Linked DNA regions of Homo sapiens. The protein of the gene in region 3 interacts with the protein of the main gene of each other region in a pairwise test. Each region holds a gene or a part of one and is shown on either strand. Other genes may lie near its edges.

The links.
Region 1: the proteins of ABL1 (region 3) and ITGB2 interact in binary tests that used the Homo sapiens proteins (3 or more experiments, as listed by UniProt).
Region 2: the proteins of ABL1 (region 3) and PACSIN1 interact in a two-hybrid assay, tested with the Homo sapiens proteins (one large-scale study listed by IntAct).
Region 4: the proteins of ABL1 (region 3) and CDON interact in a two-hybrid assay, tested with the Homo sapiens proteins (one study listed by BioGRID).
Region 5: the proteins of ABL1 (region 3) and CEP76 interact in a two-hybrid assay, tested with the Homo sapiens proteins (one large-scale study listed by IntAct).
Region 6: the proteins of ABL1 (region 3) and CTDSP2 interact in a two-hybrid assay, tested with the Homo sapiens proteins (one large-scale study listed by IntAct).
Region 7: the proteins of ABL1 (region 3) and GJA8 interact in binary tests that used the Homo sapiens proteins (3 or more experiments, as listed by UniProt).

The regions. Positions count from the first base shown.
Region 1 is NC_000021.9:44,900,400-44,904,482, forward strand, and holds part of ITGB2 (integrin beta-2 isoform 1 precursor), read right to left. Parts: intron 3,137-4,083; coding exon 2,966-3,136; intron 1,335-2,965; coding exon 1,093-1,334; intron 77-1,092; coding exon 1-76.
Region 2 is NC_000006.12:34,532,076-34,535,723, forward strand, and holds the end of PACSIN1 (protein kinase C and casein kinase substrate in neurons protein 1), read left to right. Parts: intron 1-345; coding exon 346-455; 3' UTR 456-3,148; downstream 3,149-3,648. UniProt on the Homo sapiens protein: Plays a role in the reorganization of the microtubule cytoskeleton via its interaction with MAPT; this decreases microtubule stability and inhibits MAPT-induced microtubule polymerization.
Region 3 is NC_000009.12:130,879,671-130,883,753, reverse strand, and holds part of ABL1 (tyrosine-protein kinase ABL1), read right to left. Parts: intron 3,687-4,083; coding exon 3,597-3,686; intron 3,255-3,596; coding exon 3,090-3,254; intron 1-3,089. UniProt on the Homo sapiens protein: Non-receptor tyrosine-protein kinase that plays a role in many key processes linked to cell growth and survival such as cytoskeleton remodeling in response to extracellular stimuli, cell motility and adhesion, receptor endocytosis, autophagy, DNA damage response and apoptosis.
Region 4 is NC_000011.10:126,007,117-126,011,199, forward strand, and holds part of CDON (cell adhesion molecule-related/down-regulated by oncogenes isoform 2 precursor), read right to left. Parts: intron 3,579-4,083; coding exon 3,225-3,578; intron 1-3,224. UniProt on the Homo sapiens protein: Component of a cell-surface receptor complex that mediates cell-cell interactions between muscle precursor cells. Promotes differentiation of myogenic cells.
Region 5 is NC_000018.10:12,685,391-12,689,473, forward strand, and holds part of CEP76 (centrosomal protein of 76 kDa), read right to left. Parts: intron 1,061-4,083; coding exon 872-1,060; intron 1-871. UniProt on the Homo sapiens protein: Centrosomal protein involved in regulation of centriole duplication. Required to limit centriole duplication to once per cell cycle by preventing centriole reduplication.
Region 6 is NC_000012.12:57,825,811-57,829,893, forward strand, and holds part of CTDSP2 (carboxy-terminal domain RNA polymerase II polypeptide A small phosphatase 2), read right to left. Parts: intron 3,787-4,083; coding exon 3,638-3,786; intron 1,781-3,637; coding exon 1,742-1,780; coding exon of another isoform or gene 1,724-1,741; intron 1,288-1,723; coding exon 1,186-1,287; intron 593-1,185; coding exon 536-592; intron 1-535. UniProt on the Homo sapiens protein: Preferentially catalyzes the dephosphorylation of 'Ser-5' within the tandem 7 residue repeats in the C-terminal domain (CTD) of the largest RNA polymerase II subunit POLR2A.
Region 7 is NC_000001.11:147,905,637-147,910,194, reverse strand, and holds the end of GJA8 (gap junction alpha-8 protein), read right to left. Parts: intron 3,040-4,558; exon of another isoform or gene 2,251-3,039; 5' UTR 2,240-2,250; coding exon 938-2,239; 3' UTR 926-937; downstream 1-925.

The DNA.
Region 1 (4,083 bases), on a different chromosome or scaffold from region 3:
CGTCGCCCGCGAAATGGAAGCCGTCATCAGTGGCAAACACCAGCAGCCGCGTGACGTTGCGCCAGCCGATTTCCTCCTGAGAAGAAGGCGTGGGGGGCAGGGTTACCTGCCTCAGTTTCCCAGACCCGGCCCTCTGGAGCAGAGGAGACGATGCAGAGCTGGTGGGGTGGCCCGGAGGCTGGTGTGGGTCCCCCTTTCCCCTGGGTCTCAGGGACCCAGCTGTGTTCCCCCAGACGCCACGCCCAGGAGGAGACAACGGCCCTCAAACACCCCGTGCACATGTGAGGCGCAGGGAGTGGAGGCACGTGTGGAAAGGCAAGGAGAGAGACACGGCTGCGGTCCCTGCACTTCAGAGCTGGGAACAAACCCTCAGGAAACCATCCCCAAGGGGAAAAACCCTCGCAGACGTGTGGGCCACACGCAGAACGAGTGCAACATGGAGGAAAACGAGCCTGAGGGGCCCAGCAGGCCTTGAGTCCACCATTGACAGCCCCTGGCAGGCGCATGTGGGGGCCGTGCGTGTCCTAGGCTGTGACCTCACACTCGTGAGCAGTGTGTCTGCGCTGGGACTGCAGGGAAGCAGGAGAGCTAAGGTGGGTTGTGAGGGGAGGACAGTGCATGTGGCCTCAACATGGCCCAGGGACTGTGGCTGCTCTGTTAGGCTGACAGTCACAAACTGGGTGGGCGGGACGTGGAGAGCGACACACACTGGGCAGCCAGCGCCCACCCGGCCTGGAGGGAGGAGGGTGGTTCCACCCCAGGAACCACGGGACCTGCTGCCTAGCGGCCCTGTTCCACCCTTGGCCGCTCGCAAAATGTTTAGGCTTCATAAGGTTTGCCCAGGGTCACAAATTTAACTCACAGCAAACAATGAAATCAGCGCATGATTTTCGAGCCCTCGTGGTCACCCTCCCTTCCTCCTGCCCTTTCCTGCATGGGCAGCAGCAGGGTGAGGAGCTGCTCTCCCCAGGCCCAGGCTGGAGTCCCTCAGACGACCTGCCGGCCAGGGTACCCCCCTGCCCCCACACAGCGCCTGACAGAGCCCCCCACACTGGGGGAACGTGGGGACCCAAGCAGGGGCAGCGGCCTCACCGGGCAGGCGGCGACCTGCATCATGGCGTCCAGCCCACCCTCGGGTGCATCCAGGTTTCCGGAAATCAGCTGCTTCCCGACCTCGGTCTGAAACTGGTTGGAGTTGTTGGTCAGCTTCAGCACGTGCCTGAAGGCAAACGGGGGCTGGCACTCTTTCTCCTTGTTGGGGCATGGGTTTCGCAGCTTATCAGGGTGCGTGTTCACGAACGGCAGCACGGTCTTGTCCACGAAGGACCCGAAGCCTGCAGGGCACATGGAGGGGCTGGGGAGGTGGCAGGCTGGGCCCAGGTGGGAGGGCCAGCTTCAAAGGGGCACGAGGGCAAGCCTGTTTCCTCTCTCCTAGCAGGGAGGTGGAGAAAGCAAGATGGCACATGTGGAGTGTGTGTGTGAGCATGTGCGTTGTGCAAGCACACATGTGAACGTATGTGGGCGTGTGTGTGAACCTGGGAGTGTGCAATGTACATGGATGAGCATAAGTGTATGCATGTGTGTTCCTGCATGTATGTGTGTGACCAGGTATACATGTGGGCATGTGAACAGGTGCGTATGTGTATCTGTGTGTGCAGCCATCTGCATGTGTAAACATGAGTGTGTACATGCGTAGCACAACTGTGTGTGCACGTATTCCTGTATGCATGTGAGCATGTTCAGGTATGGACACACCTAGTTCACGTAGGTGACCAGGTACATATGTGGGCATGTGTGTTTATGTACGATTTATACATGTGAGTGAAGACATACATGGGTGATCATGAGTGTGCATGTGAGCATGTCTGTGTGCACATGTGGTCTTGCACGTGTGTATGACTGTGTGTGCATGTGTGTGCACATGCAAGTGTGAGCATGCATTCATGTGTGTGAGCATGCATTTGTGTGTGAGCGTGCATTCACGTGTGTGAGCGTGCATTTGTGCATGTGAGCATACATTCGCGTGTGTGAGCATGCATTTGCGTGTGAGCATACATTCATGTGTGAGCATACATTCACATGTGAGAGCATGCATTTGTGTGTTTGAGCATGTGTGTGAGCATACATTCACGTGTGTGAGCATGCATTCACGTGTGTGTGCATTTGAGTTTGGGTGTGCTTTTGTGTGTGAGCATGCATTCGCGTGTGTGAGCATCCATTTGTGCATGTGAGGATACATTCATGTGTGAGTGTGCATTCGCATGTGTGAGCGTGCATTTGCGTTTGAGCATGCATTTGTGTGTGAGTGTGCATTGCATGTGTGAACATGCATTTGTGTGTGAGCGTGCATTCACGTGCATGAGCGTGCATTTGTGTGTGAGCGTGCATTTGTGTGAGCATGCATTTGCTTGTGTGTGTGTGTGTTATCGTGCATGTGTGCATCCCCGCATGTAGGGAAGGTGGCAGAGTGCCGATGTGAGAAGCCACGGCCGGCGGGGAAGACATGCGCTGTGACTGACACACACGTGTGCTGGAGACCTGCTCTGTGGCAAGGCAGTGCTGGTGTAGAGCGGAGCCCTTGGCCCAGCAGAGCTTGCTGTGTGGTTTCTTCAGTGCTGCCGTCGCTGTGCCGTCTATATGTGTTGTGGTCTTTAATGTTTAATAATTGGCACTGTCAGAATTTTGTCTTTTAAACATACCAAGAAATAAATAAAGGAAGTAGAAGATGGAAGGGGAAGTGGAGGGCTGGACAATGTCTACAAGTGTTGGGGAGCCAGGGACTGGGTGTGGCCCCTGGCAGGGAGGCAGGCCGACTGCAGCCCTGTGGATGCCCTGGGGGGACCTGCATCTGGGGCCCCCAGATCTACCCTGGGGACCTGAGTGCGAGGAGTTGTGTGGGCCACAGGCAGGAGTGGCCAGGGTCTGGGAAAGGACTGGGTTTTGTCCTGCAGTGCCTGGGCCTCACCAATGCGGCCGGACTCGGTGATCTCGTTGAGGGCCCGGAGCAGGTCGCCACCTAGCTTCTTGACATTCCTGAGGTCATCAAGCATGGAGTAGGAGAGGTCCATCAGATAGTACAGGTCGATGGGGTAGCCCTTGGCCCGCCGGAAGGTCACGTTGAACGCTGCTGCCTGGCCTGCCGGTGGGGACAGAACAAAAGGAGCCACACCTCACATCTCACACAGGGTGTCTGGGGGCGTGTGGCCCCGAGCGGGCTGTGCACTGGCACCCTCTCCTCCAGCCCCCAAATCCTCCTGACCTCCCCTCTCCCCGCCTGGCAGGAGAGCTGAGGACCAGACACAGGACATCCAGGCAGGCTGGAGTTTCAGAGGAAGGACATGACTCCCGGACGCAGGCATGTGCCTCGCAGTGACACTGAAACCCGCCTGGGGTGCTTAGAGTTGACGCCAGCGACATTGGGGACGCCTTTCATTGAGAGTGGCAGCGGCTCACCTGGGCTCACACCTAACCCGGCCCCATGCCTGCAGTCCCACGGGCGCCCTCATCAGCAGCCACATAGACAGGCATCACACGAACCTGGCACTTCCCAGCAAGGCCCACGCGGGCCGTCCCCAGGAGGCCCCTTTCTCCATCCCAGCCCTGGACTTCCGCTCGCCCGCGTCTCAGTCACACGTGCGGTTGTGTAGCTGTCTGTTTACCTGTCACCGCAACCAGCCTGTGTCCCTGGCTCCCAGAACCGTGCCTGGTACAAGTCAGCTCTCCATAAACACACATCATGTTAATGAATGAGCAGGGAGGGAGGGTGACGAAGCCTGTCCCCTCTGCCCCACCCTCCAGCCTTCAGCCCCCCTGGGCGGCAGGACAAGTGCAGAGCCCACTCCACCCCCAACCTGCCTGCTGCCACACCCTGGGAGAAAGGGTATGTGCCCCTCCTCACAGACACACACACACGCACTCCTACACATAAATACACCACATGCACACACAGTCACACATGGCATACACACCCACATATATGCACACACACAATACTCACACACAAATATAACTCATGCACACACAGTCACACGTAGCACACACGCACCCACATATACACGCACATGGCACCCACACACAGCAAAC
Region 2 (3,648 bases), on a different chromosome or scaffold from region 3:
TGTGGGCGTGACCTGGGCCCAGGATGGGAGTGGGGGCAAGATTTAGATTGGTTGGTGCCAGGGGCGGAGTCAGAACCTGAGAATAGTGTGGATGCGAGGTCTGGTTTTGGGGACGGACCCGACACCCAGATTAGGTGAATGGCTGAGGTAGGCCAAGACCCCTATGCCAAGGGTGGCACGTGAATGTTGGCGTGGGACTGGGGCTGGTTTCCAGGGGCGGGGCCTAAGAATCTAAAACCCAGTGCAGTAATCAGGAGGTGGGTATTGGAGGGTTCCCCTAGCAGCCGGTGCGTTGAGGGAGGGGCAGCCTTCTCTCTGAGCCCCTCCCTGTGTTCTCTTTCCCAGGAGACGAACTCACCAAGCTGGGCGAGGAGGATGAGCAGGGCTGGTGCCGTGGGCGGCTGGACAGCGGGCAGCTGGGCCTCTACCCTGCCAACTACGTGGAGGCTATCTAGAGGCCCCCTCCCTCCATACTCCCGTCACTCCTCCCCACTGCCGCCCCTCCCCTCCCACTCTCGTCTCCTTCCCCTCGCCATAGAGTTCCAGACATATTTTCCGATCAAGCTTTTATTTTTTTAAAAGTCAAAACAGAACAAAACAAAGTATGCAGAGACAGAGCATTTGCAGGGCCACCTGGAGGCTGGGGTGCTGGGGCTTGGGGTGGCCCCAGGGTAGGTAACAGTCTTAGGACTTAGCCCAACATCACAACATCTGCTCTTCGGGTTCCACCAAAGAGTCTCCTGAGCCCTGAGGGATGGATGTCTCCTGACCCTTCCACCCCGCCTCACTCCCTCCGTCCCACTCCACTCCAGGCTGCCGGCACCTGCCCCATTCCCTGGCCTGGTTTCCTAACCTCTTCTTCCTCCCCTGCCCTGCTTCCCTTCCTCCACCACCCTGCTCTCAAAGGCCTCCTCTCCAGACCCCTGGAAGGGAGGCTTCCCCATCTTTAGTTTTCCACTCTGCCCCGGGGAGCACCCTTCTACTCCTAGCCACGTCCCTTGGGACCGGTGGGACTGGAGGAGGAACGGTCACCCTCCTCCCCCATGGAGGTTTCCAGGGGTCCCCCAGACATGAAAGAGGGGTGAGCTGGAGGAAGTCATGGTGTCACTGGGGTACAGGAGGGTGAATGAAGGGCATGCAGGCCCTCAGCCCGGGCTGTGCCAGCCCTCCCAGCCCCAGGCCCATCTGAGGGACCAAGACGCTGTTACGCAGGCCCTTCTTTCCAGCTATCAGCACTTTCAGCATCGGCTCTTCAGCAGATCCAAACCCCCTCAGCAACTTGCAGAGGACCTGTCCCCTCTCAAAAGTCCCCTGGCCTAGGGTGGGGACCCCCAAACCTACGGCAAAGCCAGCAACAGTAGCAGCCTGCTCCCATTTGCTGGGGAGGAGATCATCTTGTTCCCCTGGCCCCCCACTCTCCCTCCATGTCCATCCAAAAACCATAAAATCACTGGGTTCCACATCAGCCTCCATGAGGCCAAGCCTTGTACCTGCAAGGCTCTTGGCCTAACCATTCCTCTGTCCTCTTCTCTGGCCTGCCTGGGGAGCCCGTGAAGGCCGCACGGGTGCCTCCAGCCTGAGACATCAGGGGAGAGCCTGCAGCTGAGTTCAGCAGAAAGGAGGAATCCTGGCCCTCAGGAAGAAGATAGTCACATGTTTTTCTTCCTTGTCCCCACGGCCCCCAGAACAACATTCTCCCTGCTGGCAGCCCTTCCATGTCTCCAAACCTGGGTCAGAGTGAAAGGACCTTTGGGGGTGGGTGGGAGCAAAGGGCCCACCTGCTGGTTGGTGAAAGCAGTGGTGCCGGAGTGCTAGGTACCGCACGAGAGGGTGCGGGGGCTTGGGAAGCAGACCAGGGTTGGACAAAACCCCATGAGGGCGGGGAGCTGGAAGAAAAGTCTCTTGGGGACCTCTGGGGCAAGGAGCTGAGAAGTCCTGCAGCACCAGGTGAGACTTGCTTACAGTGGATGCCACTTCTAGGCCTCTGGACCGCAGATGCCCTCCTCCCTCCTGCACACCTGGCCTCCTGGGCCTCCAGGTAAAGAGAGAGAGCCAGCCCAGCCCTGTTTCCCCTCAGTCCTCCTTTGCTCCTGCTGCTTCTCCCAACAGCCCACTGTTAGGAGGTAGTAGACCCCAGCCTCAAGGCTCTGACCTTCTTCATGTGGGCACAGAGGGTCCTGACACTCTGGCAGGGCCTGAGCTGGGGCAGGCCTCCCTCAGGGCCAGGGGCGATGGCACCCCGGGGACAGGCAGACCTCCTTCCTGCCGTCAGCACCCCCTTCCTTATCACTGTCTGGTCTCCGAGCTTCGGCTGCAGCCTGAGGTGTGTCCTGGGCTCCTCAGAGCCTGAAGCAAGCTTTTGGAAGCCTGCAGTCCTCCCAGCTCCAGTGCAGAAGCCTCTCTCTCCAGCCTTTCCCCAGGCAGGAGTTGGGGTTGGGGGCCTCTGTCCCTCATCGCTTACCTTGGAAAGGTGGGAAGCTGGCAATCTGCACCTTGGGGCCTGGGCTCCCCCTCTCTGTGCCAGCGGCTTCCCAGCACCTGGGAGGGGCTGCAGCCCCAGCTGGACTCCAGCCTGTCCCTCTTAGCACTCTAGCTGCCCACTCCAGGGCAGGGACTCGAAACCCCCTCCGTCCTGAGCAGCCACCTCCAGGGCCCTGTTTGGGACCACTCTCTCAGTCCCCAGGTCCTCAGGGCCCCAGAGCGGGAGGGTCTCCTACCTGGAAGTCCCCCTGAGCTCCAGGGCCCAGCCCTACCTGCCAGTGCTGGTGTCAGGGCACTCAACACCGAGTGTGGGGGCCACGCCCCTTGCCATGCCCACGGCCTCCTCCTGTAGCTCCTGCCTGCACCCACGATGCTGCACGGGCCCGCCCTGGTGGGGCTCGGCGAGTAATGTGTTTTGTCCCCAGTTAACCACCATTCTGCGGCCTGGTTCTGCAAGGAACCAGGGCTGCCCCACCGCCCGCCGTCTGCCGCCCTAGGCTTCCTGACTCCATTAGTTCCGACACTTGTGAAACTCCGAGAAGTGCTGTGGTCTCAGCAATGCACCTGTTTTGTACATGATTGTGTAATTTAAAGGTATATAAATACAAATATATATATATATCAGTTGTGATTGTATGACTGTGGATAAAATCCAGAACTGTGTCAACCTGGCTGCGCATTGTCATCTTGAGTCTGTGCACCTTCAGTCCTGGGGGTTTCTGAGCCCTCTGAGAGCTATTTGTGGTTGGGATGCAGGGGGGTAGGGGTGGTGCCCGAGCAGGACTGGGTGCTGTCCTGGCCCACCATCCACAGACTAGGCCACTGAGAGCCGGTCCCTTCGCCCTGCGGGGGCCTGGGTCTTGTCTGGACTGGGGAGGGTGATACTGGAGGCTCCTGGAGCTCTGGCCCATTCAGGTTCCGGGTGCCTGGTGACAGGCCCTGACCAGGAGAGCTGGGGCATTCAGGGTTCCACATTCATGGATCAAGAGTGAATGAGGTCCTCAAATAGGTTTTGCTTTTTAAAGCAGAATTCTAAAAGTGACTGCTGAGGCCCACGGTTCCTGGCTGTCCACAGTGCCAAGCTCCCTGTGCGGTGATGTTGGGCTGTGCCATGCCTTCCTGCGTCTCGCCTGGCTCTGAATGCATTTCTGTGTGGGACCCGTGGGA
Region 3 (4,083 bases):
ACTGTGGGACACAGCCCCTTATTCCCAGAGCTCCTCATAGGCCTCTCGGCTAGCTGGCTGGCAGGAGAGCCACAGGTTTTGACCCTTTGCTTGGCCTTGTCATCGTTTTTATACTCACTAGAGAGTGATGTGGGTGGGTGGGGGGCTGCTGCCTTCAAGTAAACCAGTGCAGGGATGAAGAGGCCAGGGCCGTCCAGCTTTTTGTTCCCATCTTCAGGGAAAGAGACCAAAGCGTGTGTGTGGTTTTTTTTTTTTTTTGAGTTGGAGTCTCGCTTGTTGCCTACGCTGGAGTGCAGTGGCACGATCTCAGCTCACTGCAACCTCCGCCTCCCAGGTTCAAATGGTTCTCTTGCCTCAGCCTCCCAAGTAGCTAGGACTATAGGCACCCGCTACCACGCCTGGCTAATTTTGTATTTTTAGTAGAGACGGGGTTTCACCATGTTGGTTAGGCTGGTCTCAAACTCCTGACCTCAGGTGATCCACCCGCCTTGGCCTCCCAAAGTGCTGGGATTACAGGCATGAGCCACTGCACCCGGCCCAAAGCCTTTCCTAATGACAATCCTAACAGCAATGATGGCTTTATTGAGAGAAGCGTGACACGTGCTTCACCTTTACAACCTCATCTGCATTCTCACAACAGTGCTGTAGCCCGGCTGGGACTTGCCTGGCCTCAGGGATGGTGGCATCAGAGCCGGTTATCAGATCCAGGCCTGTCTGAGCCCAGACGCTTGGGTGCTCCTCTGGGGAGCATGGGGTGGGGGCAGCCCCCAGCTTGTGCCACGGGAGCCTGACCTTGTGATTCGCTGACCTCGGCCTCCTAAAGTGCTGGGATTACAGGTGTGAGCCACCACGCCCGGCCAACAGTTTTTTAATGGGCACTCTTTAAATATGAATCATAGCTCATAAGAAATCTTTCTGGTAGCCAGGCGCGGTGGCTCAAGCCTGTCATCCCAGCACTTTGGGAGGCTGAGGTGGGCGGATCATGAGGTCAAGAGATAGAGACCATCCTGGCCAACATGATGAAACCCCGTCTCTACTAAAAAATGCAAAAATTAGCTGGGTGTGGTGGCACACGCCTGTAGTCCCAGCTACTCAGGAGGATGAGGCAGGAGAATCGCTTGAACCCAGGAGGTGGAGGTTGCAGTGAGCTGGTATCATGCCATTGCACTCCAGCCTGGCAACAGAGTGAGACTCCATCTCAAAAAAAAAAGGAAATCTTTTTGGTGTTGCCAAGCTCCTGCTAGTGAGTAACAGAATTCTCCCTCAGAGGTCAGCTTGCAAGAAGAGGTTTTCTGTTGGCACCTGTAACTCAACAGAGGTACCAGTATGCATTTATCAGAACCCAAGGCAGCACGCGGGACATCTGAATCAGGGAACACCAAAGCCCTCCCAAAACTTTAATCTAGTGGAAGGAGGCCAGGAGAGTGAAATTGCAATGAATTATGCACCACTCAGTTTCAGCACTGAGCAGTTAATTGACACCCTCGGCTCACCAAGAGATCACTATCAAAATACCCCTCAGATGAAACTGACGGGCGTAAATGAACATGACTGCTGATCACTGGGTTCTTAATAAGCACAGCGTTCCCAGAGGCCTCTCCTCCCTACTGCTCAGCCACCTGAAATCAGGAAAACCGATAAGAGGAGGAAGGGTGGAAGATTCTGGAGAGTCTATACGCCATAACCTCCAAGTAGGTGAGTGAGATGGCCCAGCGGGGCGGGAAGTATTGCAAATTTGGACTTATTTAGCATGCAAGCCTTTTAAATGTGCGTTTTGGTACATAACATACGCACTCTACTCCTACAGTAGTGGACATACGTACTTTATATACCATATATATGGGCTGCATGTTCTGTTTTTTTTTGTTTTTTTTTTACTAATGAGAGTACGTGATAAAACTCAGGTTTATAGATTCTGCTGTCAGTAAACATCCCACCATAAATCTTCAAGAAGTAGGGCTTTGTCCAGTCCCTTCACATGTACCCAGTCTGCAGTCCATTAGAATGGAGTCCACCATTGCCATCCCCAGGATCCTCTGTGAACCCAGATGCTTGGCCTACCCCCCACCTCCAATATGGGTTGGCTGAGTCCCCACCCAAATCTCACCTTGAATTGTAATAAGCCCCACGTGTCAACGGTGGGGTCAGGTGGAGATCAATGAATCATGGGGAGGTTTCTCCCACATTCTCGTGGTAGTGAATAAGTCTCACGAGATCTGATGGTTTTATAAAGCGGACTTCCCCTGCACAAGCTCTCTTGCCTGCCGCCAAGTAAGATGTGACCTTGCTCCTCATTCACCTTCAGCCATGATTGTGAGGCCTCCCCAGCCATGTGGAACTGTGAGTCAGTGAAACCTCTTTCCTTTATAAATTACCCAGTCTTGGGTATACCTTTATTAGCAGCATGAAAACAGACTAATACACCCCTCAATGCTTTTGTTCAGCTGGTCTGCAGCAGAACCTGGACTGCTGGTTCTGGGGGTCAACCATGAACATAGAACAGAGCCTGGCCTGTAGTAGGCACACTACATAAATGTTGGCCATTATTATTTTTGCTAGTGTCTTGAGACCCCCTCCTGAGCTGATCCCAACTCCCTTGCTCGCCTAGGCAATGGCACCAGAAAGATGCTCTTCCCAGAGACCACCAGGACACGGGTTCTGTCCATGTGCGTGTCCTGGTTCCACCTGGCTGCAGCGAGCTTCTCACATCAGTGCCTTCACCGTGAGCTGCTTGTCACGCAGCCTGGTGCTTACTATTGTTGAATCTGCTCTGAGACAGCAACCACAGATGCCGCGGGTAATAGGTGGGAGATGGGCTAGCTCCTTGGCGGGCTTCAGAAGCACCTCTGCCTACAGGACTGAACTCACTGCTGGAGCCTATGCTCCTCGGGGACTCTCAGAGGGAGGGGATAGGAGGCAGGTGGGGAGAGGAGAACCTTCCTCCTTCCGAAGCTGAACCATTGACAAAGGCCATGGCTGCCCTTCTGTGCGGGCTCCATTCACAGCTTCCCGTTGGCCTATGATGGCCTGAATGTAGCCTCTGGCAGGGAAGGGAAGAGCAGTGGGGTTGGGGGAAGCGGGGGACTTACCGCTCTCTCCCTGGCCCTTGGAGTGAGGCATCTCAGGCACGTCAGTGGTGTCTCTGTGCTCTGCAGCTCTCCTGGAGGTCCTCGTCTTGGTGGGCAGCTCTGGGGCCTGCAGCAAGGTACTCACAGCCCCACGGACGCCTTGTTTCCCCAGCTCCTTTTCCACTTCTAAGAATCATACAGGGACAGAAACAAAAATCCAGCAGCCATCAGTACTGGTGTTGGCTTGGTGTGGTGGTTCTCTTTCTTTGTAAGGTAACAGTGCTCATCTGCATACAACTAAAGAAAAGGCACGTGGATACCGGAGAAACAGCCCTTAGCATTTCTTAGAACTCTGCAGGGCTGCAGCAGACAAGAAAGCACAATACTCCACACCTCTGCCCAGCTTTCTGGTCTCAGGACAGGCTGGTCTGTGAACTTTCACCAGGAAGTGAACCGAATGACCCAGGCTGCAGTCCCACATGGCTGCCCTTTCACCCCACTGCAGGTACCCCGGGATGGGTACTTTACCGTCTGAGATACTGGATTCCTGGAACATTGTTTCAAAGGCTTGGTGGATTTCAGCAAAGGAGGGCCGGTCAGAGGGATTCCACTGCCAACCTGGACAGATGAAACCCAAGTCAGATCATCCATGAGATCTGGCTAGCAATACGGGGCTAGCAGTTCTCAAGGAAAAGTCTAGAATGAAAGCAACATTCCAATCCTGCTAACCATCTTTTGCTGCAACAAGTCAAAACGATGAATGTCATCATGTCCTGTTATAGACATTAAGAATTTGAAAAGACGTTAGATGCTGGCAGGAATATGGATTGTAAAACCCCAGAGAGACAGTGACAGCAAGAACTGCATTTACAAATATATTTTTCCCAGTCCCGCTCTAGTAGGTGTAGAAAATTACTAAGCCAAACAGCTCACCTTCTATCTTGTTCTTTCTTCACGGTTATCAAAGTCTGAAGTAAAGAAATTCTCATGAAAATGAGACTAACATGAGGACTAA
Region 4 (4,083 bases), on a different chromosome or scaffold from region 3:
AAATTCTATTTTTCACTCCTTTTGTGGAGGAAGAGTGCAGAGCAAACAACGTACTACTTTTATGTCCAAAATGAAGTCAGATTCCTGGTAAAAGATGGGTGTGTTTTTGGGAGAAGGGCTGCACTGCAGTAGAGAACCAACAGAAAACAGGACTGACAGTGTAAGGTTAGTTCTCTGTTAGTTTAAAAGAGAGAAAGGGTGTCCCAGAAGCATCCTCCATCAGAGAAAACAAGAAGCTAGTGAGGAAATAATGTAGAAGAAAACTAATTAAGTTCACTGAGACAACTTCAAAATATTGCTCCTGGAACAGCAGTGTTTATCTAGTGAGTCAGACTGCGGACTGATGTTCAGGGTGTGATCTGGTGCCTGCTAATGCAGACAGAAGGACTCGGCAAGTGGAGATAATTAACTGTGGCTTGAGGTAGTGGAGAAGGACCTTTTTATCATTAGAAGTTTAGTGGATCCTCCGGGCAGTTTTCCACTGGGAAGTGGGATCTGGCTGTAAAAGAGTTTAAATGCCACATGCCTCATACAGAAGCATGAGAAAAACGTTAATGCTGCAGCTTCTCCACTGTCTGAGTATCAAAATTCCATTTCTGTAAGACTTAAGATGCAATGAGACCTCTCCAGAACTTTTATTAAAAGGGGGATTCAATTAACTTTCTTCTTCTGTTTCAATGATATAATCTGGGCACTTGGGAGATACACTCAATACAACTGAAAAGACCTTACCAGTACTTCCCCGGTGTTTTTGCATGTATTATCTCAACTTATCTTCAGAACTCTATGAAATGGGTAGAACAGGCATCTAGCATCTTTTAAGGTAGAATGTTTTTTGAATCGGAAAAGAGATTGATGCAACTACGGCAATGTAAATAAATTTAATGACTCTAAGTGGAAACTAATTAAACAGGGAGGGAGTACAACCATATCTGTCAAAGATGCTCCCACTGTGACCACTGCTGCCAGCAACTCACAACCCAAACTATTTAGGAAACCCGCACCAACTCTCATTATAGTTTTAAAGAGTACCACACACTCTACAAATATTTGTACATCCAGGACCTCAAAAACCCAAAGTCTCTGGAAAAAACAAAAGGCTGGGGAGAGAGTTATCTCTCTCTCTAACCTAGCTTGCTCTCCCCTTTACAGTACAGTAGTCAAATGACTTGTCAGGATGCTAGAATTTCATAAGGCTCAGATTCCTATGCAAAGAAGTGAGTTGTCATGTATTGTTTTGAGTTTTAATAAACTCGGTTGGATCTTAATAATTATACTAGAAAATTAAAAAAAGACAACGTAGGACCTCTTTGGTAGAATACAGCTGATGGGGTTACCATACATAAAAGTAGTATTTATCGAGACATAAAATCCTGGAGCACAGGGGAATCTTAAAGATCTTCTAAAGTTAGTTCACATAACTTCAAAGGGCTTCCGATTTCTCATATTTAAGGTGAGGAAGTTCGACAAAATATCTAGTTTCATCAGCCATAAAACTATGACATCTGTCTCTCTACACCCTGTATTCACATAATCGCTTCAGCTAAATTCTACCCAAGGAGCTCCTGCAACTACACCTGTCATGCAGTTAACAATTTCGAGCAGAGCCACTCTTATTTTTGCCTAGAGGAATAGAAATATAAACACACACGCACATTCATTTATAGGTGCAAATTTATGTAACACTGAACTACTTTCTTCATTTAAGGATTCTTAATGTTTCTAAAATCAGTAACTATTTCTTCCTTCCCTTAACACTGCCACAAGAGATCACTGTAATTTAATAATAATTAGACAGTAACAATCATAACTTTATACTTAGTATCAATGGAGGGCTTTCTATTGCCAGACACCATTCTAAGCACTTACTACGCATTAACTCCTTGGATTCTCACATCAACCCTATGAGTGGGGCACCTTCACTATACCTGTTACACAGATGAGGAAACAGAACAGAGAAGTGCAGTGATTTGCCCTTGGGTTACAAAGCTGCTAAGTGGCAGAGCCAGGATTCTGACACAGCCCACGTGCTCAGCCTCCACATCTCTCCCACCTCTAACATGCACAAGAGGATAAGGGGAAGTCCCTGGTCTCCACCACTTCTCCTCCGCCTCCAGCTTCATTCAGAGCAAGGGCGTCCTTGTTTGCACGTGAAGGGAAATCGTATGTGCACATACGAACTCTTTTTTATTTCAACCATCACTCCTCTGCCAAGGACCCCCCGTTGACCACTGCTCTGGCTAAGGGTGCCCACACACTGGTCGTGTGGTCCAGACTGTGGCGGATGGGCCAGGGGAGAGGAACTGTGGGGACCAGACTGTGAACTCACTGAAGCAGGAAATGCTGGAGCCCCAGACCTGTCTAGAAGGAGGAATGTGGGCTCTGAGCTCAGCATAAGCACTGCTCCTCGACCCTATGGGCTCTTTAACCTGTGGGACCATGGCCCCAGGCAGAAGAGAGCCACGCTAAGCCCCTTAAAGCAGAGGCCAGGGTCAGAGACCTCAGTTACCCAAAACTAAAGGCAGTACTGCCTTTGATGTTGGGCCTCTCACAAGACAAATAAGATGACAATCTACACCCAACTGACTAGCTGTTGGGGAAAGCTGCCCTAAATGCCTACTGATGGAAGGTCTGAATTTGAATTAAGTCAAGTTTGAGTCCATTTCCATGAATATTAATAGTCTATATACCAGTACATCAAAAATCATATATAGTTTTTAAGTCATCATCACAAAAAATCAGTAAAATATGAAGAATTAATATTATACATCCCATTAGAAAATAACTTTGGATAAGACACAGGGAATATATACATACAGGTATTACTTAATAGTACCACAACTCTACATTCTCAATGAAGGCCAGTCCTTTAGACCCAATACTGTAGTTATCAAGGGCATAAAAAATGTCTGCAATATCATTTTCGGTAGCTTAGAAAACCAAAAGCATTCATCTCAAAGACAGGTTATATTCTGGGCCTGCTCCCAAATGAGAGCTTTCTGTATTGCACCTACAATCTTAACAAACACATCAGAAACAGAGACCAAAATTCATGTGATTCACATAAAGTGAAATACCAAGAAATACAGTTCTACATTTCACTGTCATCAGGAAAAAATATAGAGAGATTGCTGGATTCATTAAAATAACATATTTCAAATCACTTTATCTTCTATTATAAAAGGAAATTACTCAACTAAAAATAAATAATAATGGCAACTCACCAACCATGAGAGATGCTTCTGCCTGTGTGGTACCATGTTCATTTGCAGCTTCGCAGATGTATTTCCCCGCATGTTCCTGAGTCACAGCCTGAATATGGAGAGAGCTTGCACCAGCTTGGGACAGGACGAAGTACACAGGCTCCAGGTTCAAGCCCTCAGGTCTTGATAACTGTGATTTTCGGGATTTCGATCTCAGGACTTGAGATGGATGGCTGGTTATCAATCCATGGCTGTCATACCAACGAATGACCGGAACCGGCAGCCCACTGGCATTGCAGGACAGAGTAACAAAGTCTCCGTCTGCAACCTTTGCACTTACTGGTGCCGTAATTATAACTGGCTTGAATCCACCGTCTATTAAAAAAGTAATTCACATATGAAAAATGAAGAACATTGTAGTACCTACGATGCAAAACAACTTCATCCTATCACGTAAATGTGGGAGTAATGATTAAAACCAAGATAGCTACCTCCTTATTAGTTCCCTTCTCAACTTTCACCAAGTAAGACTGTCAATAAATGGTAGAGTTGTTTCATAGCTGTGGGCTCCTAAACATTTCCTACGTAAATTTCCTGTCCTTCAGAAAGAAAGGAATATATATAAAGAAATCTTTTGAGAGTTTTCTGAAGGTACACTACACATATCTGACCACTGCAAATATAGAACATATAAGGTTGAAACCTCAGACCTTAACAGGAAAAATGTGTAAATAAGTATAAAAGTAGATAATTTTCCTTCAAGAAAATGGTCAATTTTGTGGGGTAGGGTGGGAAGGGAGGCAGGAATCTGATTATAAAAAGCGTGGGAGAAAAAAACCTGTTCTCAATAAAAGCTGATACTGATGATACCTGTATGTTT
Region 5 (4,083 bases), on a different chromosome or scaffold from region 3:
TAATTCATTCTGCAACTTGATTTCTGACATTTTAGTACTTGTAGGTCCCTACATCACAGAAATCACAATAAATAAGAAACTACATGAGAAAATAAAGATGCTGAGTTTTTTGTGTATTGATATTTAAATGTTATGAAAAACAGAACAAGGTTCTGACGTGGTCAAGCTGATAGCACCCCAAAGCGGTTAGTTCCAGGACCCTTGCAAAACAAAATCCGTGGATACTCAAGGCTTATATAAAATAGTATTTTTTTTTTTTTTGAGACGTGTCTTGCTCTGTCCTCAGGCTAGAGTGCAATGGTGCGATCTCAGCTCACTGCAACCTCCGCCTCCAGGGTCCAAGTGATTCTCCTGCCTCAGCCTCCTGAGTAGCTGGGATTACAGGCACACGACACCATGCCCAGATAATTTTTTGTATTTTAGTAGAGATAGGGTTTCACCATGTTGCCCAGACTGGTCTTGAACTCCTGACCTCAGGTGATCCACCTGCCTCAGCCTCCCAAAATGCTGGGATACAGGCATGAGCCACTGCGGCCAGCCAAAATGGTATAGTATTTTATATATAACCTAAGCACATCCTCCTATATACTTTAAATCACCTCTAAATTGTTTAAAAATCTCAATACAATGTAAATGCTACATAAACGTTGTTACACACCATTTTTTAATTTGTACTATTTTTTATTATTGTAATTTTTTACTTTTGTAAGTATTTTTGATCTGCAGTTGGTTGAATCTACAGATACAGAACCTGTGGGTACAGAGGGTTGACTATATGTGCATTTTTCTAAGGCATTCTTTTACAAATGGATTACAAATTCAGAGTAACTATGATATACTGCTACTTAATTCTATTATGTGTGTATAATACCTTGTTTCTACAGAGAAAGGCCAGCAGAGTGCACCACTGCTCCTGTTTACCTCCTCCTCCAATAACAGGGGCTCGTTCATAACCAAGGACATTAACAAATCTTGCTGCTTGCCTTGGAGTATCAAGAAGCCGTCCAGCTCGAAGTGGTTTAACATAGGAACAGACTGGTCTATTTATCCCATTTTCATCCTAGGGAAAAGGGGAAAAACATCTGTAATGACATATTAATCATCCCCAATTATGTTTTTTTCAAATACATTAATGTAGGATAAAATAATTCAGCATACCATTGATCGAGTGCTTACCTTGTATCCAGTATTTGGCTGCAAAGTGCTGTGTATATAATTTCCCTTAATCCTCATCTCCGTTATTTTCATTTTATAGATGAAAACTGAGGAGCTACAGCTATTATGCAACAGAGCCAGGTTCAAGCTCTGAGCTGTTTTACTCCAAAGGCTGTGGCAATAAGAACTCCTCTGAGAAATGTGTGGGTAGGTATGTAGGGGAGGGAGAGGTGCTCTAAGCTGAAGTATTTTTTCACATTACCATATAGAATTTAACAACATATAGCCAGACAGAACAAATAACTCTTCTGATTGGCTGATATAACAGAAATGATTGTAGCTTGATTCTAGTTTGTTTCCATTAGGGCCTCAAATTTAGAGATCCACAGGAAACAATAATTTGTTAACCAAGTCAATTGAAAGCAAAATTTCAAAAAACACTCTAGAAAAAGTTTTACATCCTAAATACAGGATATCTCCTGGTGTTGGTGCTGAATAACTTGTATGCATATATAGGTCTCTGATGACTGTCTACCACTGTGATTTTACAGTGAGTATTACCAAAGTCCACAATCTCTTTACCTTCATGGTTACTGATACGGCACTGTGAAAGGGCCACTTACTATTCAAGATTTGGAGATGACCTACCCTCCCTGATAGGGTTCCTCAGGACATGAGATCTAACCCAGCCAAAAGAAACACCATCTGTTTGAATTATCAGAACCACTGATGTCTTTCTCCACAACCAGAACATCTTTTTCCAATATAGTCCCATACTTTAGCAAGGAAAAAAAAACTCACTTATTTACATTTGATTATAATGAGAAAGATCATTAATTTTTATGTTGCAGAGCAACTTGGCTATAGATTCCACTCATACCTATAGTTCTCAACTATAGAAGGCATCAATTTTTTTTTTTTTTTTTTTGAGACAGAGTCTCGCTGTTGTCCAGGCTGGAGTGCAGTAGTGTGATTTCGGCTCGCTGCAACCTCCGCCCATGGGTTCAAGCGATTCTTGTGCCTCGGCCTCCTGAGTAGCTGGGATTACAGGTATGTGCCACCACACCTGGCTAATTTTTGTATTTTTGTAGAGATGGGGTTTCACGATGTTGACCAGGCTTGGTCTCAAACTCCTGACCTCAAGTGATCCGCCCACCTCGACCTCCCAAAGTGCTGGTATTACAGGTGTGAGCCACTGTGCCTGGCCTAGAGGGCACCGATTTTTAAAACAGAGGATTATTATTCTAATTTTGGGGGGATGTAGAGAACTATGGTTTTCTTTTACATGAACTTAGCATTACTAATAATCTAGTGTGGTATAAGAATACTAAGTCCTGAAATCACAAACTAAATATTAAAAGAATATCCTCAATCCTCAAGTGATTTACAACATTTTCTTAAAACCTAATGGCCTTAGGCTGGGCACGGTGGCTCACGCCTGTAATCCCAGCACTTTGGGAGGCCAAGGTGGGTGGATCACGAGGTCAGGAGATCAATTCCATCCTGGCTAACATGGTGAAACCCCATCTCCACTAAAAATACAAAAAAAATTAGCCAGGCATGTGGTCCCAGCAACTTAGGAGGCTGAGGCAGGAGAATGGCATGAATCTGGGAGGCGGAGCTTGCAGTGAGCCGAGATCGTGCCACTGCACTCCAGCCTGGGCGAGAGCGAGACTCCATCTCAAAAAAAAAAAAAAAAAAACAAAACCTAGTGGCCTTAAAGTTCAATTTCTGTAACTTATTTTAAAGTTTCTTGCACTAAAAAGTTCAAAAAGCATCATTCAATGAATTACTACTATACTATAGCAAAACCAGCTAACAAAGGGTAAAAAGAATAATGAATTTTTAAGTATAATGGCCACGGCAAATCTACAGATCTTTGGTTAGTATTGAGGTGCAGGACTGTTACTCCTATTCTTACAAATCCACTAACAGGCAAGAAAAGATGAGCACATAAGAAGTGGAAGCATTTGCCTAAGTCAATCATCAATAGTAGCATCTTAGAATGTAAGATATATCATTTTATTACAGCAATATTCTAATATTATCTAAATATATCCCCACAAGCTACTTAACTGTTTTGAAAAGTTAATATTTCAACCTCTGAATGGGCACTGTCCAGTGAGAAAATCACTAACCATTATGAGCTATTTAAATTTTAATTAAAATTTAAAATTCAATTATTTTTAGTCATAATAGCCACATTTTGAATGCTCAGTACATGGCTGGTGGCTACCATACTGGTTAGCACAGATACAGAACATTTCCATCATTGCAAAAAGTTCTTGGCCAGGTGTGGTGGCTCACGCCTATGATCCCAGCACTTTGGGAGGCCGAGGCGGGCGGGTCATGAGGTCAGGAGATCGAGACCATCCTGGCTAACACAGTGAAACCCCATCTCTACTAAAAACACAAAAAATTAGCCAGGCATGGTGGCACGTGCCTGTAGTCCCAGCTACTTGGGAGGCTGAGGCAGGAGAATCACTTGAATCTGGGAGGTGGAGGTTGCAGTGAGCCAAGATCGCACCACTGCACTCAACCCTGGGTGACTGAGACTCTGTCTCACAACAACAACAAAAAAAAGTTCTTTACTTTACTTTCAGTGCTGGATACATTAGAAATTTTTTTGGCCTGGATATGTATATTAACGTTTTGATTTATAACTATTGTTTTTATAATTAGATTGACTGTTTTACACTGTTGTTGTTTAATTTCAGAACTAGTCAAATACAGGAAGCAGCAAGAAACAGTTCTGAGGAATCTAAATTAAATCAGCATTTTATTTACTCTATGTATATGGAAAGAGGTGGCATAAACCAAAAAGGCACCAGTTGAAACTCCAATTTGACACAGACTTTGCCATGACTGAGTTGCTGTTTGGCCTTGAAAAGACTGTTCACTTCTCTAACCTTCATACTGTTTACAAAA
Region 6 (4,083 bases), on a different chromosome or scaffold from region 3:
GGAGGAGATGTCTGGGCTGGGGAGGAAGAAAGTCACTAGCTATTCACAGTGGGGGTGGCAGGGGGAGCATGGGCAAGAGGGCATTCCGGGCAGAGAAAATGGTTACTACTGATTTCCCTGCCTGTTACAGGCAAAGAGATACCTGGTTAAGGTATCTTAACAGGTATAGATACCTTTCTTAAGGAACAGAGAAATGTAATAAATCATTTAACAGTGCTGGCCACGTGAGGGGATGGTGGTTAACAAACGATAGCTATTATTATTATTAAATAAAATGTAAACTATTCTTTTAAACAGCTTGGTTGCAAAGAGAAAACAAGGGAGACAGCTGGGTGGGATATGGGGCTGAAACTCTTTTTTTAAGGTGAGAAAGCCTTGAGTGAAAGATACCAATAAAAAGGGGAGGCTGGAGTTATAGAAAAGGGATCAACTGACAGAACCCAAGCCCTGAGATGGGTGGAGGACCCCAGTACAGGTGAGGCAGAAGGCAGACCCCCCACCCTCTGGGCTGGGTGTGGTCTGGCTGGCAGCTCACCTGGTGAGTGGTCCCCTCAATCTCTATAGGCACTATGAAGTCAGCATTGTTGATTGGCTGGAAGGCAGAAAAGTTAATGCTGTCAGCATGGTGGCAAAGAAACATGAGGCCCCCACCATACCCCTAGGTGGGTGGGGAGAAACAGGTCTTAAAGACTCCTGGAAGTGCCTCTGGCCACCTCATTAAGGGGTTCTCACCCTAGTTCAAGATGTGATACCCCATTCTGGTTTTCCCTACTCCTTAGCACCTCCACTCTGACAAATTCTACCTGGGCTGAGAGTTTTGGGGCCTGAGTTTCCTGAGGAGACAAGCAGGGGCAAGGGCCAAAGGTGATCCAACCACTCTTTTAGGCCTGCCCTGTACAGAGCCCTCGTGGCTGGCTTTCTGTGCTATGTGGCTCGGGGGCAGATGCAGCCTGTTGGGAGTGACTGGAGATAGCAGCCCTGGTGGAACACACAGGGTTCCTACTCAACATTCTTCAGTGGGGCCTCTAGATACCTGTGACACAGGGTGGCCAAAATGCCAGAGGCCTGGCCTTTTCCCTTCTAATCACTCTTCTTTCCTCACCTTTAGGCTGCCTTACACATCTGTTGCCAGATTCACAAGAAGGCCCAAGATAAAGGTAGGAAGGGTTCCAGACATTGAGTTACCTTAAAGGAGCTATGCACAAGGGTTTCATCGAGGTCAATGACCACACAGATCCTTCCTTGATCTTCCTCTGTCACCTCTGGGAGCAGGCAGGTCCCTGGGATCTAAAACCAAGCCAGGTTGCTGAGATCTGCCTACCAAGAAAGCCCAATTGTACCCCTTGGCATAATTATGGGAAGAGCTGGGTTGTTTGTGGAGACACAATCACCAACCCAGGATAGGCACCACTTAAAGGCCAGGAAGAAAGGAGGTGGAGTTGTTTCCTTGGTTTCAGCCTCCCAGTGGGACTATTAAGTGATCTGGACATTGGAGGTGGTGGCCAGGGCAGGTGTGGGATGGACAGCAGCTGTGGGAAGAGGGCATGGAGCACCAGCTGTCCCCTAAAATCTAATGCCTTGCACATAGCAGGCCCTCAACAAGTATGGGGAACAAATGGCTTCCCAGGTCAGGGAGGTGGCTGGCTAGGCACCAAGGACTATGCACATCACCCTGCCCGTGGAGCTGGCAGGGATCACAGGATCCTGGCTTCTGAGTACTTACCAGGCCAGAGTCACGTACCTGGTAGAACTGGTACTGGAGACACTGGAGCAGATCCGACTGAGGAAGAGAAGGAGGTGGTCAGTGCCATCTCACTGCCTTTCCCACCCCATCCAAACCCACTGCTTCTGTCTTAAGCCTGGAGGGCAACTTTCTCCCCCAGACCCAGCCACCTGGAAGCTCCTACCATGTCAAAAGTGACTTTTCCTAGGAGTGGGGCAGGAAAAGGGAAAGGCTAGAGCTTCCTTTCCACATTAGGCCTGATGAAGGATGGAGAAGACAAGTGTCCCTGTTCTCGGCTGCCACTGCCTCTCAACTGGACAAAGTGAGGAACAGGGAACTCAAGTAACTGATTCAGGGACACAGAGTCAGAGGCAGAACCAAAGTCTGAATTCCTCACAGTGGCAAACTCTCGCTAAGTCCTTAAACTCAGGCTTCTCCTTGAGAACATGTTGTTTTCCATGCCCTCCTTAGGGGTTATGTGGGGGAACAAGCCCTATAAAACATCAAGTAAGCCACATTGTAGGTACCCAAAATGTGAGGGGAGGGAGTGCAGAGAGATCAGCAAGCCCCCCACCCCAATTTTTGCTAATACAAATGTTATGACCGCCGGGCGCAGTGGCTCATGCCTGTAATCCCAGCACTTTGGGAGGCCGAGGCGCGCGGATCACCTGAGGTCAGGAGTTCGAGACCAGCCTGATCAACATGGAGAAACTCCGTCTCTACTAAAAATACAAAATTAGCCGGTCGTGGTGGCACATGCCTGTAATCCCAGCTACTCGGGAGACTGAGGCAGGAGAATCGCTTGAACCCGGGAGGCGGAGGTTGCGGTGAGCCAAGATCGCACGCCATTGCACTCCAGCCTGAGCAACAAGAGCGAAACTCCATCTCAAAAAAAAAAAAAAAAAAGTTATGGTTTTAAGTGTTCTTAATGAAAACTTTGAAGAAAAATTAAAATCCTAGCACTTAGATAAACAATGTGGCATTCAGTGTACTGCCTTCAAATCTGTGTCCGCAGACTTTTTCCAGAATGCTATACAATTACACACTCTGCCTTTTTACTTAATGTTGCAACTCAATACTTCTCCATGTTATTGAGAACTCTGTAAAAGCTAATCACTCAGTAATACTGTCATGTTGTATTTTATTTAACCATTTCCCCTACTGCAAAATGCAGTGATTTTTCACTGATGTATGTCTTCAGCCTGGTCTTGAGAAAAAGGAAGGACAACCAGACCTCAGTGTTTCAGAGAAGTACCACTGGCTTTTGGGGCAGAATAATTTTTGTTGGTCGGGGCTGGCCCCACCTGTGAAATACTAGACATATAAAAAATACCCACAAAATCCCAAATGCCTTGCATGAGTATGGGAGAGAACTGCTGACAGGAGTTATTAACAGCATGGTAGAGTTTCAATTCCTTGGTTCCCTGTAACTCAGGTAACTTGGAAGTTAGCTTTGCATAATTGAGAACAACAACACAGGCTTTAGAGCCAGAGAAATCTAAGTTCAAATCCTGACACTACTATTTATTAACCATGAACTCTTCAGGTGCTACATAAACCCTCTACATAAATCCATATCTGCAAAGTGTGAATCCTGTGATCTCCTTACAGGGCTGCTGGCTGGATCACATGAGACAATATATGCAAAGCACCTTGCCTAGTTCCTGGAACCTGGAAGGATCAGGATCACAGGGGCCCTCAGAAACCACAGTGACATGTGAATGGCCCACACCGCAAAAGGGAAGGAACAGAAAGGAAATACACTACTTATGGAAGGATGGAGGAAGGGCCCCCTCTCAGCCAGAAATCTTTGCAACTTCAGGCAAAGCTTCCTTGTCCGGTTGCCATCGTCTGCAGGGATCTCCCATTAACAGTCCCTTCATTGCTGGCATCTTACCACCCCAACCCACCTACCTTAGCAATGGTGTTTGCTTCCTCCTTATACGCAGCGAGCTCAGTGGAGGAACTTGACTGGCCAACATGCTGGGCGCGAAAACAGCAGAAAAGGGCCTTGAAGATGTTACGTCCACGAGGCTTCTTAGGAGAGGACTTGGAGACCAGGCCTAGGGTGGAGAGAATGACAGAGGCTTTAGCTCTAGGGACATCAGTTTCTGTCCACAGATACTACCATGCCCATAGCTCTTCTAGTTTGTAAACTCTACTAGGGCACACAGTATACGGCTGGTGAACAACCACATACAGTTAACAGTCAAACATACATGTTTATTCCAGCCTTTTCTCTTTAAAGCAGGAATGTCAGGAATCCCCACTCTCTGGCTTGGGAGACCTGAGCCACAGAGCATTTGTTTTTCATTCCATCGGGGAAGATGGGGCCAGGCATAGAATCAAGGTGTTCTGCT
Region 7 (4,558 bases), on a different chromosome or scaffold from region 3:
ATTTTGAAAATTTCAATTAAAATTTAGATTTCATGGGCCAGGCACGGTGGCATACACCTGTAATCCCAGCATTATAGGAGGCTGAGGTGGGTGGATCACTTGAACCCAGGAGTTTGAGATCAGCCTAGGCAACATGGTGAAACGCCATCTGTACAAAAAATACAAAAATTAGCCGGGTGTGGTGGTGTGCGCCTATAGTCCCAGCTACTTGGGAGGCTAAGGTGAGAGGATCACTTGAGCTTGGGAGGTTGAGGCTGCAGTGAGCTGAGATTGTGCCACTGCACCCCAGCCTGGGCAAGAGAGAGCCTGTCTAAAAAAAAGGTTGGATTTCTGGCTTCCCTTGAAAAATCAGAAAGACCAGGTAACACTTCATGGTACTCATTGTCTGGAAGTGAGCAGCAGCTGCCCCTGCTTTCCAACTTTCACAGCCCCATTCTCTCCCTTGCATTAGAACAGGCCTGTCTTGCAACTTATGTCACCTGTCTGTATTCTGTAGGCTTTTGAGTCTGGATCCCTGAAATATGGTCACATGGTATCTGCTTCAGAAATGCTGGGATGATAGATTCTGGCTTAGTGAGCTTGAGACAAGATGGGTAAAAGGCTATGAGGCAACCCCAATTCCGATTTAAGGGTTTCTATGGAGAAATGGGGATGAAAGAAGAGTCACCCATAGCTGCTGGGGTTGGAGGAGCGGGGTAGTCCTATGAGACTGGGGAACTTTAGTGGGTCGATGGGTTTATCTTGGTAGCCCTTATGCTGGATGTGGGAAAGACTGTTTCCTAGAGTTGCCTGGAGTGCACTGCCCTGCTGCAGTGCCTGTCCAACCAGAGGCTGGTGGGAGGACAGGAGACAGAAGATTCAGATCATGTTGGCACCTGTTCCTTTCATCTTGCCCTACGTAAGCTTGGGCGTTTTTTTTTTTTTCTTTGGCGTCACTTCATACGGTTAGATCGTCTGACCTGGCTCGGCTGCTGGCTTTGCTTAGCCTGCTCAGGGGTCTGGCATCATCTGTTGTCAGCTCTGGACAGAGTGAAGGTGTCTTCTCAGCTGGCAGCCCTTGCTTTGACACCTTCTCCGACTGCGGCTCTTCTTTTTCACCCTCCTTATCCACTCCGGGGGTCTCTACTTTCTCCCCCTCTGGCACGGCCACCTTCTCCTGCTCCTCCGTGGTCAGCCTCTCTGCTTCCTCCTTCTTCTCTCCCACCTCGGGTTCGGCTCCCTCCTCTGCAGGCGGCCCCTCGCCCTCCACTTCTTGTGCCCCCACCTGAGCGTAGGAAGGCAGTGTCTCTTGGTAGCCCCGGGACAAGTCCCCCAGGGGTCCTGTGCTGATCTTCTCCTCGAACTGATTGAAAGGCTTGGCAGGCAGTGGGCTGGTCTCCACCATCCCAACCTCGGTCAAGGGGAAATAGTGGGAAACGATTTTCTCTTCTTCTAGGAGCTGATAGCCCTTGGCTTTCTGGATGGAGGAGACAGCAATGGAGTGGAGGGATTTCTCAGGAATCTCCCCCAGGGGCTGCTCTACAGGCCTCTTCAAGGCAGACCGGATCCCCTTCAGGCCCAGGTGGCCCAACTCCATCACGTTGAGGAATAGGGACACAGAGGCCACAGACAACATGAACAGGATGAAGATGGTTTTCTCCGTGGGCCGGGACACGAAGCAGTCCACCACATTGGGGCAGGGCCACCGGCTGCAGCGGTACAGAGGCAGGATCCGGAACCCGTACAGGAAGTAGTGGCCCACGATGAAGCCCACTTCAAAGAGGGTCTTGAAGATGATGTGGCAGATGTAGGTCCTCAGCAGGGTCCCCTCCAGCCGGAACTTCTTAGTGCCTTTGCTGCCGCTGCTCTTCTTGACGCTGCCCTGGTCCGGGCCGCCGTTAGTCCCCGCCTGCTGGCCCAGCTCCTCCGCCTCGCGGCTTTTGCGCTTCTCCTCCATGCGGACGTAGTGCACCGCGTGCCCCACGTACATCAGGGACGGGGTGGAGACGAAGATGATCTGCAGCACCCAGAGGCGAATGTGGGAGATGGGAAAGGCCTCGTCGTAGCAGACGTTCTCGCAGCCAGGCTGCTGGGTGTTGCACACGAAGTCGGATTGCTCATCCCCCCACACGAACTCTGCGGCCGTGCCAAGGATGAGGATCCGGAAGATGAAAAGCACGGTGAGCCAGACTCTGCCGATGACGGTGGAGTGCTCATTCACCTCCTCCAAGATGTTCCCCAGGAAACTCCAGTCGCCCATTTCTCACCCACCTGAAGAAATGAGGGAGAAGGCAAGAGCTGAGCGGCCGCAATGCAACCCTGAGTCAATATCTGTTTTTGCTAACGCGGGGTACCTCTCCTTTCCAAGTTGCCAGAACGGTCAATGTGCACACAGCGTCTATCCAGTGCTTCCTTTGTGCAGACTAGGACTAGAGAACAAAGAAGGCCCCGAAGAATGTGCTTCCATCCGCTTCCTCATCTGTAAAATGGGTTTAATAATAATAATACCTATTCTCATTCACTTCACAAATGGTCTGAAAGCATCAATGAGGCAATATTTGTATAATTCCTTAAAGTCCACCAAAAATAAGGATTCATTGTTGACCATAAATAGAAACCCTTGGTTACATGGATTTAAATCAAGACCACACACTGATCTAAGTTTCGTGAGACATAATGCTGAAGAGTTCCCTTATACTATGGGTGTCTGGGCTCCCAACACAATTCTTGTATGTATGAAATTGTCTGTGGCCATCTTATGTTTGAGTGTCAGAATATATAATGATCGTATATTTGAAGGGAAGTGGAAGGGGATTAGCATTTATTGAATACCAACTTTGTGAAAGAACTTTGACATTATATTATTTCATTTAACTTGATCCTGCTAGACTGTAATTTCCATGACGGTAGGAGCCATGCCTGTCTTATTTACAGCTATATACTCAATGCCTGACATACAGCCCAGCACACAGTGAGAACTTGATAAGTATTTGTTAACTAAGTTGATTCCAACAAATAAGAAAACTGAAGGCCAGGCACAGTGGCTCATGCCTGTAATCCTAGAACTTTGGGAGGCCAGGGCAAGAGAATCACTTGAGCCCAGGAGATAGAGACTAGCCTGGGCAACACAGTGAGACCCCATCTCTACAAAAAACTTTAAAAACTAGCTGGGCTCGGTGGTGCATGCCTGTGTTCCCAGCTACTTGGGAGGCTGAGCCAGGAAGATTGCTTGAGCCTGGGAGGTCGAGGTTGCAGTGAACCCTGATATGTGCCACTATACTCCATCCTGGGCAACAGAGAAAGACCCTGTCTCAAAGGAAAAAGAAAAAAAAGAAAAAAGAAATCTGAGGCTCAGAGAGGCTAAATATATTGTCCAAGATTAGACAGCTAAATAGCAGCAGTTCTGTTTGCTTGATCACAAAGGCTGGGTTCTTCCCACTACACCATTGAGATAAACTGCCTGCAATCAAAGCTACACAATTCTTTGACTTCTGTGCTCTTAATTTATGTTTCCTCTTCTCTAGGTTGAAATCTGGAAACCCTTATTAATAGCTTTACACATTGAGGGCCGTATATTTTTATTATTACTCTTTTAAATCCAAAGAACAGAGAGAATGCTTTGGGAAGGAATCATGTCACAGGATGAGGAAGGTCTTCTAGGACACTTTTAGTGTCCTATGGAATGAAAATGTTTCAGGGTCTGTAACATATGGCTGTTTTAATAGAGTCAAAAATTTGGTCTATAGAAAAAATATCGTTAAACATGATAGTATATAATGCCTGTAGCACAGCAATGGCTAATGGAAATGGCATTGAGCTGACAAGGGGCTGGCTGCAACTGGGTCATTCATCCAGTGCAAACCTGTAACCTATAAAGAATGATGAGCAAAACTTCCACCTCAATGGAGAACAGTTGTTCCTGCAGCTTGAACATCTCTAGAGTTATAAGTTTACTCATCACTGCCCTCAGACCAGGGCAAGAGCCCATGTTAGAGGATCTTGCTCTGGGCTTCTTCTAGCCATGCCCCATGCTATAGGCCTAGGAACCTATGGGGCTAAAGGGATATGCCTATTGTTTTTTAATCACAGTGATATTTGTTAAACACAAAAGCCTATTTCCAACCTGTGATTTGGAGTCTGGCCAGACAGAACCTGGTGGCAGGATACTAATTGCAGGCATCTGCAATGTCCAGCCTGTGCTGTCAGGGCAGGCACAATAGCTGTTCGCTTCTTGTGGGAGAGCAGAGAGTGCTCCTCCTCTTGAGGCCTCATAAGCTCCCAATCAGGCAGGGCATCCTGCAGCAGCTTCTCTTCTCCTGAAAAAGTGACAGCAGCTGTGGCATCCCCAGTCATGGGTCTGGCATTGGGAAGAGTTCCTTGGAGAAATGGGTAATGGAGAGGGGGAAGGACCCAGCAGCTCGGAATCGGAACCAGCAACTCAATCCCAGCCACATGTATCTATTTTTAACTCTTCAGACTATAGTTAAGTCTAGTAATTGCCCTGGTAAGAGTGGTAGCCATTCCCATTGCCTTTTGGAAAATAGGTGGGAAACATCACAATCAGGTAAGCAGCCCAAGC